Regions from separate parts of the Homo sapiens genome. Here region 2 is linked to region 1. The links come from fine-mapping of genetic effects on gene expression. A gene starts in region 1. The other region holds a variant in brackets. All regions are shown on one strand. Distances are between the middles of the regions.

Region 1 (8,337 bases):
GTATGTATCATCATAGGGTTGTTATAAAGATTAAATGAGATATCACACACAAAATGCTTAGAATAATAGTACCTGGTCTATAATTAATGCTCAATAAATGTTAGCTATTTTTAATCACTTTAGGGTAGAGTAGCAATACTAAAAACAACACACTTAGGAAAGTAACAAGTCATTAAGGAGAGGCAAAACCTTCAGGGTTCTCTATGAACAAATGGGATTATTTCAAGGGACCAATTCTACAGATATTTTGCAGATATGCACAAAGAAATATGTAAAAAAATGCTTACTGCAAGTATTTACGTATTTGTAGCAAGAAATGAAAAAAAATCGATCACTATCATATACAGAATCCTAGGTAGTCATTAAAAAGAATAAACGAAAATTAAATGCACTCATGATCAATTTCCAAGAAAGATTAAGTGAAAAAAAAAAAAGGTACTGAAAAACATGTATGGCAAGATCCATGTTTTGTAGAGGTAGGGTGTACATAATGCAAGTATGTGCACATGTACATATATGAGTGTATATGTGTAAACATACAGAAAAGGTAACCCAATTTTTAAATTTTATTTTTTGTAGAGACAGGGTCTCTCTATGTTGCCCAGGCTGGCAACACAGAGAACTCCTGGCCTCAAGTGATCCTCCTGCCCCAGTCTCCCAAAGTGCTGAGATTACAGGAATGAGCCACTGCACCTGGCCAAGATAATCCCATTTTTAGTAGTGATTACCAGTAGAAGAAATGGGATTTCACTTTTTACTCTATATATTTTTGTGCTGTTTAACTTTTCCTAATAAAACACATATTTGTGTTTTAAATTTAAAAAACATTTACGAATGGAGGACAAGTAAATATTATTTACAAATAAACAGAAGGGAAAAATGAAGGGAATAAAAATGTTCTATAATAAACGTATTTCTATTAAAAGAAAAAATGTTAAAAATGTGAATACATGCCGCTTTATTTGGCTTATGTGATATGGGTGACTTTCCACCACCCTCTCTTCCTTCAAAATACCCTTTCACTCTGGACAGGTTTTACATTTCAAGGGAGTGGGGGTAGGAAGGAATCTGATTTCAAGGTAACTTGATAAATTTACTTACATGTAATCTGCCTCGAAGCTCTCGGTCATTTCTCATTTTCACATAAATTCGCTCATCTAGGCTGAGCCTGATAAGATCCAGGGGCTCCTCTACAGTGTTGGTAGTTTGTTGCTGATAAAAGAAACAGGATTAGTAATGTAGTACTAGAGTCAGAGTAGTGCTTAAATCACTGCTATGCTGTGTGACCATGGGCAAGTTATTTAACCTTTTTCTGCCTCAGTCTCCTAATCTGTAAAATGGAGATAATAGTGTCTACCTAATACTGTTTTTGTGAGGCTTAAGTGATATACATGAAGGCTTAGAACAGAGCTTTTCACATAATACGTGCTATATAAATGTAGGTTAAAACACACATACATGAGAAGTTACACAGCAAAATAATCATGACTATACTTTGTTCCCTCAAAATCCAAACTGCCTGACCCAATTTCAGGGCATAGGGTCTCAGGGACTTTAGCTTTATCTCAAATATTATGTAATCATTGGAAAAACACTCACTTAATGCCTACCATACACTAGTCAGAATGCCAAATAGAGGTGTAGGTTTATGGGAAGATTATGAATTCAGCACAGGTTGAGTTTAGGCTGCCAACTGGTGAATAAGATAAATATATTTAGTAGCCAGTATAGAACACTGGTTGAAAGCACTGGCTTAGCCGGGCATGGTGGCACATGCCTGTAGTCCCAGCTACTCCAAGGGCTGAGGTGGGAGGATTGCTTGAGCCTGGCGAGGTGGAGGTTGCAGTGAGCCAAGATCGTGCCACTGCACTCCAGCTTGGGCAACAGAGTGAGACTCTTGTCTTTTTTTTTTTTAAAAAAAAAAAAAAAAAAAAAAAAAAAAAAAAAAAAGGCAAGCAAGCACTGGCTTTGGAGTCAGGCAGTCCGGGTTCAACTCCTGGCTGTGACCTGACATTTATGAACTGAGATTAAAAATCATGCCATCTGTAATTCTCAGATTCTTCATTTGTAATTGAGAAAGCCACAACCTTCTTTCTGGGTTCTTATGAGGATTAAACTAGTTAATGCATTTAAAAACAGTGCCAGGAAAACAGAAAATATTAATATTTAGAAATGGTTCCTATTGGCCGGGCGTGGTGGCTCACGCTTGAATCCCAGCACTTTGGGCGGCTGAGAAAGGCAGATCACCTGAGGTTAGGAGTTTGAGACCAGCCTGGCCAACATGGTGAAACCCCATCTCTACGAAAAATACAAAAATTAGCCAGGTGTGGCGGCACGCACCTGTAGTCCCAGCTACTTGGGAGGCTGAGACAGGAGAATCACTTGAACCCAGGAGGCAGAGGTTGCAGTGAGCTGAGATCACGCCACTGCACTCCAGCCTGGGCGATAGAGTGAGACTCCATCCAAAAAAAAGAAAAGAATAGAAAAAAAAAGGAAAAGAAAAGATTCCTATTAATATTATATTATTACAGAACTGCTGGAAACATTGGTTTTAGAGGTCAGGGCTAGGATGACTTGGGGTCACCCACATGGAAGGGATGGTTGCAGCCGCTAAGAGTTAGAAAGATTATTCAAGGAGAGCTTCTTCAGTAAGTACACAAGGCCAGTGGAGGAAGGTAACTGAATTGGTAACAGGCTCTGAAGATTCAAAAGGCCTGATGAGAGAAAAAAATAACCTAACTCAACTGGTCCCTATGTCCCTCAGTTCAACAAGTGTTTGTTAAAGGATCAGATAACCAACTGTTAGATTACAATGATAGAGAAGTCACAATCCCCACCCTCAAGGAGCTCATTCTACTGTGGAGAGGCATACAAATAATTATAATACTGTAAGAATATGCACATGAAAAAGCCCTACTGCTACCTAAGCCTCTGTCTGGGATGCCCACTGTCTGCTCTTTTCATCCTGTAGCTTTAAATATTGGCTTCTCAAAGAGGCTTCCTCTGATCATCTAACTCATTCACTCAAATATTTTTTGAGTGTTTCCAGCACTGTTCTAAACCCCAAAGACAAAAGAATGAACAAAACAAAATCCCTGCTCTTATGGCATTTACATTCTAGTGGGGAGAGATTCACATTAAACAAAGATGCATACATTTAATATGAAAAAATAACTCTCTATGAAGAAAAATGAGGCAGGGTAACCAGAGTAGCGGGAGTGCTATTTGGGCAGAAGTCCTCTCTGAGGAGGTCAGATTTCAGTAGAAAGTTTAAGTTGTGGCATGATCTCCAAAGATATTTGAGGAAGAAAAAGACCAGGTGAAAAAGCTTCTAGGACCATCTGTTATTCTGCATACCAGTTCCTTGTTTCCTTCACAGCACATCACAGTTCCTGGAAGTCTTACATATTTATATTTACTTTTATCTGTTCTCCTCGCAAATATAAGCTCCAAGTAATGGCAAGGATCTCTTATATGTCGATGTCAGTGTCCCTGGCCCTTAGAACAGTGCCTAACCATACAAAGCTGATGTTCACTCTATCTGCTGAATGAATAAATAATTGTTGCGCTCACTAATGATAACAACTCCTAACTTTATTACCTGGCTTTCTATTGGAATCCTGACAGCTCCATGAGGTAGCTAAGGATAATAATCTACAGATTTAAAAAAATGAAGCGAAGAGTGTGAGAATAGTCATCAGGTGGGCTTCTAACAGGAAAAGGTCTCAGGGCCTACGGCAAAATTCGGAGGGGGGGTTACGGAAAGGACAGGGTGGATTAGGCCATGGTGACTTGGAGAGAGGAGGCACGACTGGCCATTTTTCCTGAGTCTGGAAAAAGCAGCCTAGTACAAGAAGCTCCTTCGAGCGACCTCCTTAAAATACACTTACCTGGTCTACGTCGTCCGCCATGTTTCAAACCCTGCGCCCTTTCCCGCCTCTCGCGAGAACACAAGAGCAACGTCAATCTCCGGAAACGTGAGGATACAATACACCGGAAATAGAGAGAAACCTGTTGTGCTCTTTCCTGCTTCCCGCAGTTTTTTAGTGGCCACGGGTATGGGGTGGAGCTTCCTTTAGGGGCGTGACTAGGCCTCCAACGAAGGGGCGTGGCCAAGCGCACCGCCTCGGGGCGGGGCCGGCGTTCTAGCGCATCGCGGCCGGGTGCGTCACTCGCGAAGTGGAATTTGCCCAGACAAGCAACATGGCTCGGAAACGCGCGGCCGGCGGGGAGCCGCGGGGACGCGAACTGCGCAGCCAGAAATCCAAGGCCAAGAGCAAGGCCCGGCGTGAGGAGGAGGAGGAGGGTGAGAGCGAGGCCCAGCGGGCTTCGCGGGAGACGCCGCCGGTGGGCGGAGGAGGCCCAGAGGCAGGGCGGGAGTCCAGACGCGGAGGCCTGGTGGAGGTTGCTGCGCGCGTTCCGCGCCGTGGGGGCAGCCCGGCAGGCTGCGGCCGGCCCTCCCCGCTGTCCCCGCGTCTTTGTCCTGCGCACCCAGAGCGGTTTCCCGCGAGCTTCGCCCGATCCAAGCTCCTGCGTAGCTTTTTTCCCGCTCCCCGTTGTCCAGAGGATACAGATGTTCAGGGTTGAACTCGGAGAAGGCAGTTATTTGTGTCCCAGGAAGACAGACGGACGGACCAGGACGTAGAGTGATGCAGTGTGCTGACTCCCGAATGATAACTTCAGCTGAGTCTCACCCAGAGTTCCACAGTGGGATCCCACCTGACTTCCCCTCATGGATATTTGATAGGCTTCTTACATTTGTCATGGGCAATGCAGAACTCATGGTTTTCCTCTTTAAATCTATGCTTTCCTCCGTTTTTCCAGTCTCAATACTTGTTATAAAGCAAAGCCCACCTTTTTCTTATGTCCACACATCCAGTCCGTCAGCAAGTCCAGTCAGTTCAGCCTCAAGAGTGTATTTCAAATTTGTCCACTTCTCTTCATTTCCATGACCACAGCCCCTGTCCAAGTCATCATCACCTTTCAGTTGAGTGACTGCAGTTTCCTCTTTACTGGCCTCCCAGCTCTGCATCCAGCAACCCAAATAATCTTAAAAAAAAAAAAAATCATGCCCTGCTCCTGCTTTAAACTCCCCTTGGTTTTCCATTGCTCTTAGCTTAAAATCCAGTTGTTTTATCCTGGCCTACAAGATACTACATGTTTTGGCTCTTGCTACCTCTCCTGTTTCTCTTACCACTTGTTTCCTTGCCAGATACCCTCCTTATTGGCCTCCTTTCTCTTCCTCAAATATGCCAAGTTATTCCTTGAGTCTTTTCCTTTGATGTTCCTTCTGCCTAGAGTGAACCCCCCATGGCTTTTACCAGGGCTGATTTTTTCTATTTCTTCAAAACTCAAGTTAGACATTCCTTGAGCAAACTAAGGTGGTCCTTCCCAGATACCCCGCGGATACTAAAACCTGTGATGCTCAAGTACCTTATATCAAATGGCCTAGTGTTTCCATGTAACCTATGCACATCCTCCGACATACTTTAAATCATCTCTAGATCACTAATAATACCTAATACAATGTGGATACTATGGAAATAGTTGTCATGCTGTATTTTTTAAATTTGTATTTTTTTTCCCGAAATATATTCATCTGTGGTTGGTTGAATCTGTGGATGCAGGGCCCGTGGATTGGTAGGGCTAAATGCTAAATAAATATTTTATTTATTTTTTATTTTTTTCGAGACAGTGTCTCACTCTGTCGCTGAGGCTGGAGTGCAGTGGCGTGACCTCCGCCTCCTAGGTTCAAGTGATTCTCCTGCCTCAGCCTCCCGAGTAGCTGGTGTTACAGGTGCCTGACACCATGTCCGGCTAATTTTTGTATTTTTGTATAGATGGGGTTTCGCCATGTTGGCCAGGCTGGTCTCAAACTCCTGACCTCAGGTGATCCGTTTGCCTCGGCCTCCCGAAGTGTTGGGATTACAGGCATGAGCCACTGCGCCCGGCTAGTAAATATTTTAAATAATTGCAAAATGCAGGCTGTAGAAGGAATTTCTGGGTCTCCTGAAAAAACTGGGTAGATTAGACTAGGTAACCGGCAAAGGCTATCACACTAGATTCTGTTTCTATACCGGTTATAAATTCATCATCCATTAGGAAATAGTGAAATGGTAATAATTCGTAAACTTAGGAGGTGATTTACCTCATATGTAATATTACGAGTTCCATTTTATTCACTCATTTACTCATTCAAATAACATCTTTTGAGTATCTACTATGTGCTGTACATGAATGAGGTGACATGAGAGATAAACATATCTTGGAGGATCATAGAGTAGTGTTGACATGACATTTACATGTAAAACATTCAAGGCAAAGTGTGCTAAATATTGTGGAAGAAGGTACAAGGCTTTGTAGCTTCCAAAGGATTAATCAAGTTTGACTGGCGTGATCGGGGAACGCTCTCTGAAGTAGTTTGATCTGTGATTTAAAGGATGGTTGGTATTTTAGCAAGGGGTCACAAAAAGGGGCCGGTATTCTAGTCAGAATGTAATTTGGATATATGGCAATTAAAAATTTACGGTTTTAATCTGATGGAAATGCTACCTGTATTCTTCCCAGCTCAACACTTCACCTCGGTTCCAGCTTGGTAGAGCTTCAATTCTTAGTTTTATGCACTTGGGTGAATTATTTTGGACAAATGTTTTAGCCCTTCTGAATTTCCTCTGTGAAATGTAATAACTGCCTTGCGGGGTGGCTGTGAGTTTTCAGTGGGATAGCATATAAAGCCAAGAGCTTTAGCTTTACCCATGTTAGGTAAATTAGTTGGGCTAGCTGGTGTCATTCAGCCTAAACGGAGGTAAAGATGCACCCAAGTTTATTCTGCTAGCCAGAGGAGCTAGCAGTCAGTTCCCAAGGCAGCTTCCAGGATCTGCAGAGTTACAACCTTTGTTGTGGTTTGGTGGTTTTGTGGGGAAGCATAGACTTAGCAAGTATGGTTTGGGCTGCAGATGACAATAATTTGGTGACTGTCAGTGTAGTTGCTAACACTGTAATAGTGTAGGTTTTAATAGCACCCCTGTACATGCAAATGAAGGTGATACTTGGCTGCTTTTGACAAATAGGAGAAAAGAAAACAGGCTTCCACATGATTTCCTTTGTGTTACTAAAGCACCTCTGGTTTCTTTTCATTTCTTCTCTGTGTTAACACCTTCAGTGATATCCATTAATTCCTTCAACAGCTGTTTATTGAGCGCCTACTATTTTCACACACTGTTCCAGGTACTAGGATAATATTGAACAAGACAGATGAGGCACCTGCTCTCATGATTATAATCTGGGGGGAGGGGTACTTAGAGCAGATAACAAGTTAAAAAAAAACGGATTCACATGATGATAAGAGCTATCACCCTGTGCTAAGACTGCTGTGATAAAACTTATTTGGGTACATAGCAGAAAATGCTTCTATAGATGAAAAGAAAAACCCTCAAACTTATATGGGGCTGGGGGAGAGGCAGCTAAATGGGAATCAGTGTCAGGGAAGGCCTTTGTAAGGAGGTGGCATTTTGAGGCATTTAGTGTAATTTTGAGCCATTCATAGGAAGTTCTGGGGAAAAGAGTTCTAGGCAGAGAGAACAGTGTGTTTAAACACTCTTAGGAGGGAATGAACTTGGCCAGTTGGCTGGACACAGCGAGCGAGGGGCTGGGTAGGAGAAGTGAGCAAGGGCCTGAGCTTGGATACCAAGCTAAGGAGTTGGAATTTTATTCTGAGTGCTATGAGTTGCTGCTGGAAGGTTTACTCCGGTGTTCTTATTAAATCCCAGTAGATGGGCAAGCAGACCACAGTGGTAATTCCTGCCCTACTGAAAGAACACTGAACTCAAGGAGTCTGGTTAGGCATATTAGATAACTCAAGATTTTGGAGAGTCCTGGAAAAGAGTCTCTAGATGCTTAGGGACCAAAAAATAGCAGAGAACAGAAAGTCACCCATATTTCTGCCATCCAGAAATAGCCACCATGAAATAGTGGTCTGTTTCCTTCTAGTCTGTTTTTTATATAGCAGAAAGCATACTGTAAAATCAACTTTGCATGAGTAACATTACATCATATATCGTTTTTCTTTATCTTAAAGGATGACTCAATTATATTTTGTTGTGTGGCTCTGCCATAAGTTACTTAACAATTATCTCATGGTTGGACATTCAGATTATTGTTAGATGCTTTTGAATACTATGAACATCCTTTTGATTCAGAGTTTTTGTGTTTCCTTTATCCCCCTTTCCCTTTTAACTCCTCTACCTTTCTCTTCAAACGGAAATAAAAGCTGTGCTTTTTAACCAACTAGAAAAGTTTGTGATGCCTCTGAAGTATCCTCCTACGTGCATTTTTTTA
Region 2 (8,337 bases), 62 kb after region 1:
GTCCCTGTTGACTGAAAAGCCACCCTTCGTGTTTCTCTCCTCTTTAATTCTTACACTTGGGTCTTCAAGCCCTAATCCAGAGTTGTTTCTCCATTCATTTTTTTCAACAAATATTGAACACCCACTTTGTCCTTGGTACTATTCTGGGCTCTCAGGATACTGCAATGAACAGAATAGACAAAAATCACTGCCTCTGAGGAGCTGACATTCCAGTGGGGGCATCAAGTGGTAAACATACATAGTATGTTGGGTGACGAAAAGCACTTTGGAGAAAGATAAAGCGGGATAAGGGAGATGGGCAGTGGTCAGGGACGGTGGCATCTGAGCAGGAGGTGAAAGCAGGGAGAAATCGCTGTGAGGGTACCTGAGGGAAGGGAAGGTGCTCCTGGAGGACAGAACACCCTGTGCAAAGGCCAGAGGTAGGCATGTGCTCAGCACATTCAAGTAAAAGCAGAGGCCAGCGTGGCTGGAGTGCAGGGAGTGATGGTGGGAGATGGGGTCGAAGAGGTGAGGGATGCAGCTCTTTCTGGATGTATTTGAAGATCGAGCCATTCCAATTTGCTGTTGGAGATGTGAGAGAAAGACGGGTTGGGGTGGCTCTACCGAGAGTAAAACTAAACAGCTGGGGGTGGAAGGTGTCTTTGTATCTGACTGCTCACTCAGTTCTGTTCTCAGCCCCACCCTGAAGTCCTGCACTCAGAGTAACCCCTCGGGCCTCCAGTTCCCCACTCTGACCAAGGTTCTGGGGTGGGGACTGAGTTGATTCTGGATGACCTCCTCCTTGTGCACTTTGAGTTCAGCTTTCTTCACTGGTTAAGTCAGAGAGCACTCGACCATCAGCTCTCCCATTTCCAAAACATTATTGACATCTCTGAGCCTGTGATTGTCTCTTTTCCTGGCCATGCTATCCTTGATGCCCTTTAAAAATTGCTGTCAAGTGGGATTCCAGCTGACAGCAGAAACTCATTTCACCTCCCCAACCACGTGAGGTAGGTAGGTGGAGCTGGTGGTAAGGCCTGGTTTCTGAGGCCCAGATGGTACCTGAGCTCATACAGTGGGAAGTGCTTAAGCCCAGATTTGAACTCCAGTTCTCAGACTCTCTGTGATATTGAAATATTGAAGCCACTGTGCACCAGAGGGTTTAAGGTAGTTTTCCACCTCCTTCAGAACATGCATATTCAACTGCTTTTAAAGCTTATCTTAGAAATAAAAACACAAGCACTTTTAAATTTTATTTCTCTAGAGAAATTGCTGACAAATGTCATGAGAACTACTAGTCTAGCTGATTGTCCCACTAGTTGGCATCTTACGACTAGTCTGACCAGTCCTTTCTTTCACAGTTAGGTCTGTTAGGAATAGGTAAGCCTTGTCCTTGCATCAGTCCTTGAATCGACTTTTAAAAGTTCCAGAAAGCAAAGGCCCTCTAGGACAGGCATACAATGGACAGTTTGTAGGGGACATACTCCAGATCTTTCAGACCAGAGTTCCTGTTCCTGTTCTGCCTTCATTTACTGCATGTCTTTTGGTCTGTTTCTCAGATCCTGTGGTCTCTGTAAAATGGAGATAAAGTAATACCCACCAGTGAACTCACAGATGTAATAAAACACATTGCATGGGACAAAAATGTGTAAAAGATACAGCTGTTACTGTTCTACTTTCGATCCAGTGTGAACTGTGCTGCAAGGGAAAATGTCCAGGAAGGCACATGTGAGGACCTGGCCCAGTGGGAGGGACCTGGAATTCTCAGTGGGATTGTGCTAGGCTGGTGTTTCCTAACCTGGCTGTGTATCACAGTCACCTGTGAAGCCCGTGAGCTACATGGACATGGCAGAGAGCTCGATTCAGCTTTTCTTGGGTGAGGCCTGGTCTCTCTATGTATGGCAAACCCCAGGAGGGCCTCATACTTTACCACGTTTGGACCCTTTGCTTTCTGTGCCTGTGACTGGGCCTCCCCGTTGGGCTGCGCTGAGCTGCCATCTCGGTAAACAAAACTGCCAGAGCTGAGTTGCGAAATTTGCATCAGCTCATTCTGCTTAGCGTTCAACATTTTTACAGATTGCTTTTGAGTATTTTGGAAACTGGCCAGAATAGTAGAATCAAGGTTACTAGGTACTTTAACAAGTCCTGGCTGCCTGGTCCAAAAGCTTTCCCCAGTCAGCCACAGGGGAAAAGCAGCCTTCTGTTGGATGACATGCAAGGTATTGAGGCAGAGGCCAGCTCTGGGAGCAAAAGCCTCCAGTGGGTTGGGGGTCCTGGCCCCGTGTGCTGAGGGTTTTTTGTTGTTACTCTGTTCTAGTGTAAGAGACCCTGTGCAGTGTGGGCATGGCGTAAGGCACCAAAGTGCCCTCCCTCTGTCCCCTGAACTGTCCTTCTCACTGGAGATGTCGCTCGGTTTTTGTTGTCACTGCCCCCTTCCTTCCAGAAGCCTCTTCCTTAATTACTTCAGCCCAAGCATGGGCCCAAACCTTTTTCCTTGCTTTCCCCTCAGCATAGCTGTGACTGAACTTTTCTAAATATAAACAAAAAGTATAAAGTGATCAGAGATGCCCGCAGCTTTCACAGGGCCACGTTTCTGCAGGTCCGGCCTCTGCGCCCACAGTGGCCACTCACTCAGAGCCATGCACTGTGGCTCTCTGCCAGGCACTTTTGGCCATACCTGAAGAAGTCTTCTTAAATGCTTGGCACCTCCTATCCCCTTCCAGATGAGGGTCCCAGTACCCCAGATCTTCTAGGATCAGAATGCATGGTCAGTTGGTCTGTAGAATTTGTCATTCACCTTCACCAGGAAAGTACAAGAAAGATCTTGTTTGTTTACTTGGCAAACATTTCACTTGGTTCTAAGCTTTTTGGGGCCGAGGTTGGGTCAGAATTTATTGTATTTATTCATTGCCCAAGGTGCACAAGCTCTCAGGCAGTGCCCAGTCATGCTAAGTGCTCAGTGTCAGCTGTCGATTATTCTTGTGCAAATGTTGGTGCGGGGCAGTATGGGTGTGTAGAAAGGATCTCCAACAGTGTAGACTTCAGAGCATCCTGTCCTGTGTGGCCCAGCAAGTTACTACTCACAGCCTCAGGCTCACCACCATTAAAAGGGGATGCTGCTACCTCCCTCTCAGGGTGGCGATAGGATGGAGGAATGAGCTCACACGGAGGACCAAAAGATGGACTGGCTCTGTCTGTTCTCTGGGGACAGCTGGAGAAACTGATGACCCACCGTGCAGTGTGGGGTACTGAGGACAAGGTGCTCCTTGCCCACAATGGGAATATCTGACACATACCTGTGGTGTGGTTAGCTGATGGCCAAAGTTTTTAGGGAGGTGAGGTAAAGTGTTGACAGCTACAAGGTGTAGCAGAGAGGGCTGTAAGGACCTCCCTTCTGCTTAACTCAGCCTTGGTTTTCTGTTGTACTC[C/G]ATGGGGGCTGAGGGTGATAATACTTCATAGGGGGTCACTCTAAGGCAGTGAATGCACCCACCCTGGTTTGGCCAGGACTGATGTGCTTTTCTGTGCTCACCCAGCCTCCAGTGAGGAGAAGCTCCTAATATAAAATGCATTTGACTCTCACTGGTCTGTTTTCCTGGAGCCCTCAGACCTTCCGGCAGCCAGGCCCCAGGGTGAGGGCTCTGGTTGTGAACAAGGTGCTCTGCACTTTAGGCCTGCTGGCTTTCCCATGCTGGTCCTCACAGGACCACAGTCCTGACCCTAACCACTGTTGGGTTTGTCCTAAAAAAATAAACTGCAGATGGTCACAGTTAAAAAGATCTGAGAAGTGCTCCTCCCACTGCCCCCCTCCAGTTATTATACTTGTTGGGAAATGGTCCCCCGGCCTCTTGGACTGTGGGGAGTGGAACGGCTGCAGTGTTCCTCACCTTATGACCCTTCCTTCTTCCGGCCACGATTAGGAGCCCAGAGGCCTAGTGGGGGTGCTGGCTGTGGTCCCTCTCAGACCACCTGTGTCCTCAGCCTTTCAGAGGCAGGGGCCTGTGGCCGCATCAGCTATGTGGGCTGCAGTGATCTGTAGGCTGAGGACCCACATCACTGCACACTCACTTTGCCAATGTGCTCAGTCTTCCTTCAACTTTTATGCATTCTGAACCCTGTGGGTCAACCCCAGGACACTCTTTTTCTTCAGTGCTTCTTTTCCTGCCCTGCCCCTTATCCATCCGCTTTTGTTTGCTACCCCTAGCATATGAGAGCAGTTTGATAGTCACCTCACATAGGGATGGCATATGGGAGAGTCTTCAAACTTGGTTTGTGTGGCGGCTGCTTTGGGTTTAAAGCTGATTCACTGCTCTTGAATGAAATATTTCTTCCTCTGTTCTCCAAACACTAGGGAAGGATCGAATCATATTTGTAACCAAAGAAGATCATGAAACTCCAAGCAGTGCAGAATTGGTGGCTGATGACCCCAACGATCCATACGAGGAGCATGGTGAGTGACATGTGGCCTCCCAGGGACCCACACCAGGGCACTGGGGAGAAGCTCAGTGTTCTTAATTCCTTTCCCATGTTTTCCTAGCCAAGGCCAAGTTTTCAGGTATCTATTCTCAGCCATAGACCATCTCTGAGGGCAGTGGTTTATCTTCCTCAGAGGTTTGAGGGACTGTGCTTTCCAGCCTTGTTCTGATGTACTTCCCTGGCACAACAGCTAAGTTTTGGGAGAGGGTATTAGTAGATTCCAGCAGTTATAGGTAGGTTAAGGTGACAGGGCTTTTGCTCAGACAAGTTGCCAGACTGAATTCTGCCACATCTACCAACTTTATTAGCAAGTAGACAGTCATTCACCTTGTTCTGTAAGGTTGGTGAAGTCCCTGCTGTCTCTAACTGCTCCAGCAAGCACCTTACATGAAAAGGTCACTTGCCACAGACAGCTTTCTAGCAGCAGGAGTCAGCTAACCTAGTCAGAGCTGTTGCTCACTCCTTGGTTAATGGCTGAATATAACAGTGGTCGCTTAGGCCTAGGACATTGTTCCAAAGGATTTGGGCTGCTAAACTCACTAGATACTTACTACTGCAGACCGTGTGAGGTGGATGTGTGTGTGCAGTGTCCATGAACAATCTACGTATTGTACAGTAGTCACTTCACCAATCAAAAACCACTTCTGATGTCCATGATGACAACTAATCTTCTAGTGCTAACTGGTAATTGAAGAGCTTGAAGCAGCCGCCTCGAGAATATGGGCTCCTGATTGGAATTTCTCAAATGCTAACTGATGTGTGTATATTCCTTGTAGGACCCTTCACTTGTTGCCCTGACTGCTCCTAGGGGTTAAAGCATAAAATACATATCCAGCACCCAGTGGGAGCAGTGGGAAATGCAGACGTTATACAAAGTGTTAGCATTCTGAGAAAGACAGCTGCAAGGGTAATCTTGATCAGGGCTTACATGTCAATTCTAGTACCTTGCTTATCTTTAGATCCATATTAAGCACATTTCATTAATTGATCAAGACTGTGGAGGCCTGCAGGACAAATCGGGCCTTGTTTTGTTTGCCTCACAGTGTTATTAAAAGCAGTACGTATCTGCCTTTAGACTGGTCTGCCCCCTCCAGATCCCACCATTCTTTCCTGTCCCTGTTGTTTTTTTTTACCTGCTTCTGTCACTTGCAATGTATCTGCTTGGATAGTAGGTATACCATATGATGCATTTGGCTTTACAGCCCCTTATAGTGAATACTTTGTAAAAAGAAGCCTATAAAACGCAAAGAACTCTGGGACCCAAGTTTCAAGCTCTTAAACTGCAAAATTAGTAAGTGGACCAAGTAAGCCACCATTTTATGCCATCTACCTGCCTTCCAGCATCCAGCTCTGCAGCTGAGATGGTGCTTGGAATAGCTAAGAGTACCAAGAAAAAAGGTGGCAGAATTAATTTTCCTAGAATCAAAACATCAAGAGGGCCTTAAAGATCATCTGATCCAATGAGAAAACTGGGGGCCTGGGCGGGGGCGGAGACTGACTCAGCCAGAGACTGGAACTTCAGGCCTTAGACTGCATGTTTGACAACACACTGCATCTGAGCTTTATGTAACATGCCAAAGGTACCCTCTGTGTGGATTTATATTGTGTCCCTGAAATGCAAATTGGCACCATGTGCTTTGTGAGGAGGTATCTCATTCCAGCTTACCTGCCCCTAAGAAACAATGAAACAAGGACTCCTGGAGACCTAGGTTATACATTTTTTGTTATGATTTTTTTTAATCAACCACCTGGTCAATTTGTACTGGGTTGTAATTTTTAAATGTCAGTATTACCTCTTTTGGAAACTGGTTGTGCAGGTTTGTGAGCAGATTTGAAGCTCCAGGGGGCAGCATTTGCAAATGTTTCTCCAGCACTGAGGTCCATTTCAAGAAGTGGTGAGATGTAGGGGAAGGGGCATGGACTCTGGGAATCCTGTCAGCCCAGTCTGCAGTCCTCACTTGGACCATGAACCCCAGAGACTGCATGAGTAAACTGGGGTTAGTAGCACCCACTGCAGAAGGTTGTCAGAAGGCTTATGTGAGTTACCAAACGTAGCTTAATGCAGGAGAACTTGATCTGCAACTGCTGATGGTCCTGGGGGTCTGCGCCTGCTAAGGGGGCAGCACTAGTTGGCATCGTCCTTGCTGTCCCCATTTTACAAGTAAGGAACAGGAATAGCTACAGCAGATCCATTGATCAGTGGAGCTTCCCAAGCTGGAATTGAAGGCAGGCGGGGTTTCGCCTAGGACTTTGGACGTTAGTGCAGAGTGCCAGGCTTGGGTACTGCCCTGGAGTGAAGAATCATGTGTAATTTCACAGGACCTTTTAGAGGCTCTCTTAGAAAGTACTTTCAGTCTCTTAATAAGAATCATGTAAGAAACTTCTGTATGAATCATGTCTTCACAAAGCTGAAAATGAAGCCATCGTTTTGAGAGCATTTTGGAAAACCAAGAAATACTATTTAGATGTGAATAAAGTTCAATGATAAGAAAAGGTATAAAAGTCAAAAGTAAGAAGCCTATTAATATAGTGAAAATGAAAACCCATCTATAACCTTGCTTCCTGCCCAACACATATGTGCAGTTTAACAGGTTTGGTTGATTTTTACAAGAATGCACTCGCACTAATGGTATGCCACCAGCTTCTCATTGTGCAGCATGTCTTGGACATCTTTCTTCGTCAGTACATAAGGAGCAACCTCCTCCTTTTCACCAGTCCCCAGGCTATGCTGAGCTTCTGAGAGCAGCTGCAGGGCAAGAGGGGCTCAGGGGGGCAGGGAGCATGGGGGTGGGGTGGTCCTGATCATCCATATGGGGAGGGGGATTGGAAAGAGGAGATCAATACCTCAGTTCCTTAAAGTGTTTGGGCTTTCAAAAAGCTCCTCACTAACCATCCAAGTGATCTCCTCTTCTTTGGGCTAAATGGGTCCCGGTATTTAATTCTTGGAGCACAGCCTCAGAGCACTGAGAGGTGGCTTAGAATAAATTAGTGTCACACGTGGAGAAATATGTCATTGGTGGCTTCTCTCCCAGGTGGGCCAAGGAATGCTGGATATGTGCTAGGCTTTAAACCTAATCCAAATCGAGGTGTGGGTCCATAGGCAACAATAGTTCCTGTTCTGCACCCCCTCAGTAGCCTGTGAGGACTGGACTAGTTTTGTATTTTCTGAAACTTTAGAGAACATCTCTCTATCTTCCTGTTCTAGGATTGATACTGCCAAATGGAAACATTAACTGGAACTGCCCATGCCTTGGGGGAATGGCCAGCGGTCCCTGTGGAGAACAGTTTAAGTCAGCCTTTTCCTGCTTCCACTATAGCACGGAGGAGATCAAGGGGTCAGACTGTGTAGACCAGTTCCGGGCCATGCAGGAATGCATGCAGAAATACCCAGACCTCTATCCCCAAGAGGATGAGGATGAGGAAGAGGAAAGAGAGAAGAAGCCAGCAGAACAAGCAGAAGAAACAGCTCCCATTGAGGCCACTGCAACCAAAGAAGAGGAGGGATCAAGTTAATGAAGGCCACAAGGCACTGGGCACCAGTCCTTTTGGAGTGGACCTTTTGCAAAAGGCCTTGTCATCACCTTCCAAGAAAGTTTCCTTCTGTTGTCCTGTGCATTATAATATACAAAATAACTTATTTTGATGATCAGAGGTCTTGAGGTCTTGACATCTTGACATATACACTGAAAAAAATGGGGGTTGTATGTATGTGTGTCCTACCCAAACCTGTGGCCGCCACTTTTGAATTCTCAGATTGCCCTGAATTTTGCCACTTTTAAATAATGTGCTGAATAAGCTCAGCAACTAAAAACCATTACCCAAGAACGTTTCTTGTGAGTGAGCTGATTTATTCTGATTCATTATATTCCTTTTGGTAGATTTTAT

Evidence for each region.
Region 2: its variant is fine-mapped to the expression of XPC in whole blood (TOPMed, PIP 0.96).

What each region holds. Positions count from the first base shown.
Region 1 is chr3:14,174,435-14,182,771 of GRCh38, reverse strand. It overlaps XPC (XPC complex subunit, DNA damage recognition and repair factor), which reads left to right and starts at 4,171. Exons shown (of 16, transcript NM_004628.5): 1 at 4,171-4,306. The coding sequence starts at 4,204. It overlaps LSM3 (LSM3 homolog, U6 small nuclear RNA and mRNA degradation associated), which reads right to left and starts at 3,955. Exons shown (of 4, transcript NM_014463.3): 1 at 3,891-3,955; 2 at 1,102-1,212. The coding sequence starts at 3,911. RefSeq lists enhancers at 3,862-3,911, 4,012-4,361 and a silencer at 4,412-4,531.
Region 2 is chr3:14,112,515-14,120,851 of GRCh38, reverse strand. CHCHD4 (coiled-coil-helix-coiled-coil-helix domain containing 4) reads left to right here. Exons shown (of 3, transcript NM_001098502.2): 2 at 4,328-4,426; 3 at 7,658-8,337. The coding sequence ends at 7,965. Among named protein-coding and RNA genes, the nearest start is that of CHCHD4, 8.2 kb to the left of the region's middle. The variant C/G (reference allele first, on the strand shown) is at 3,408.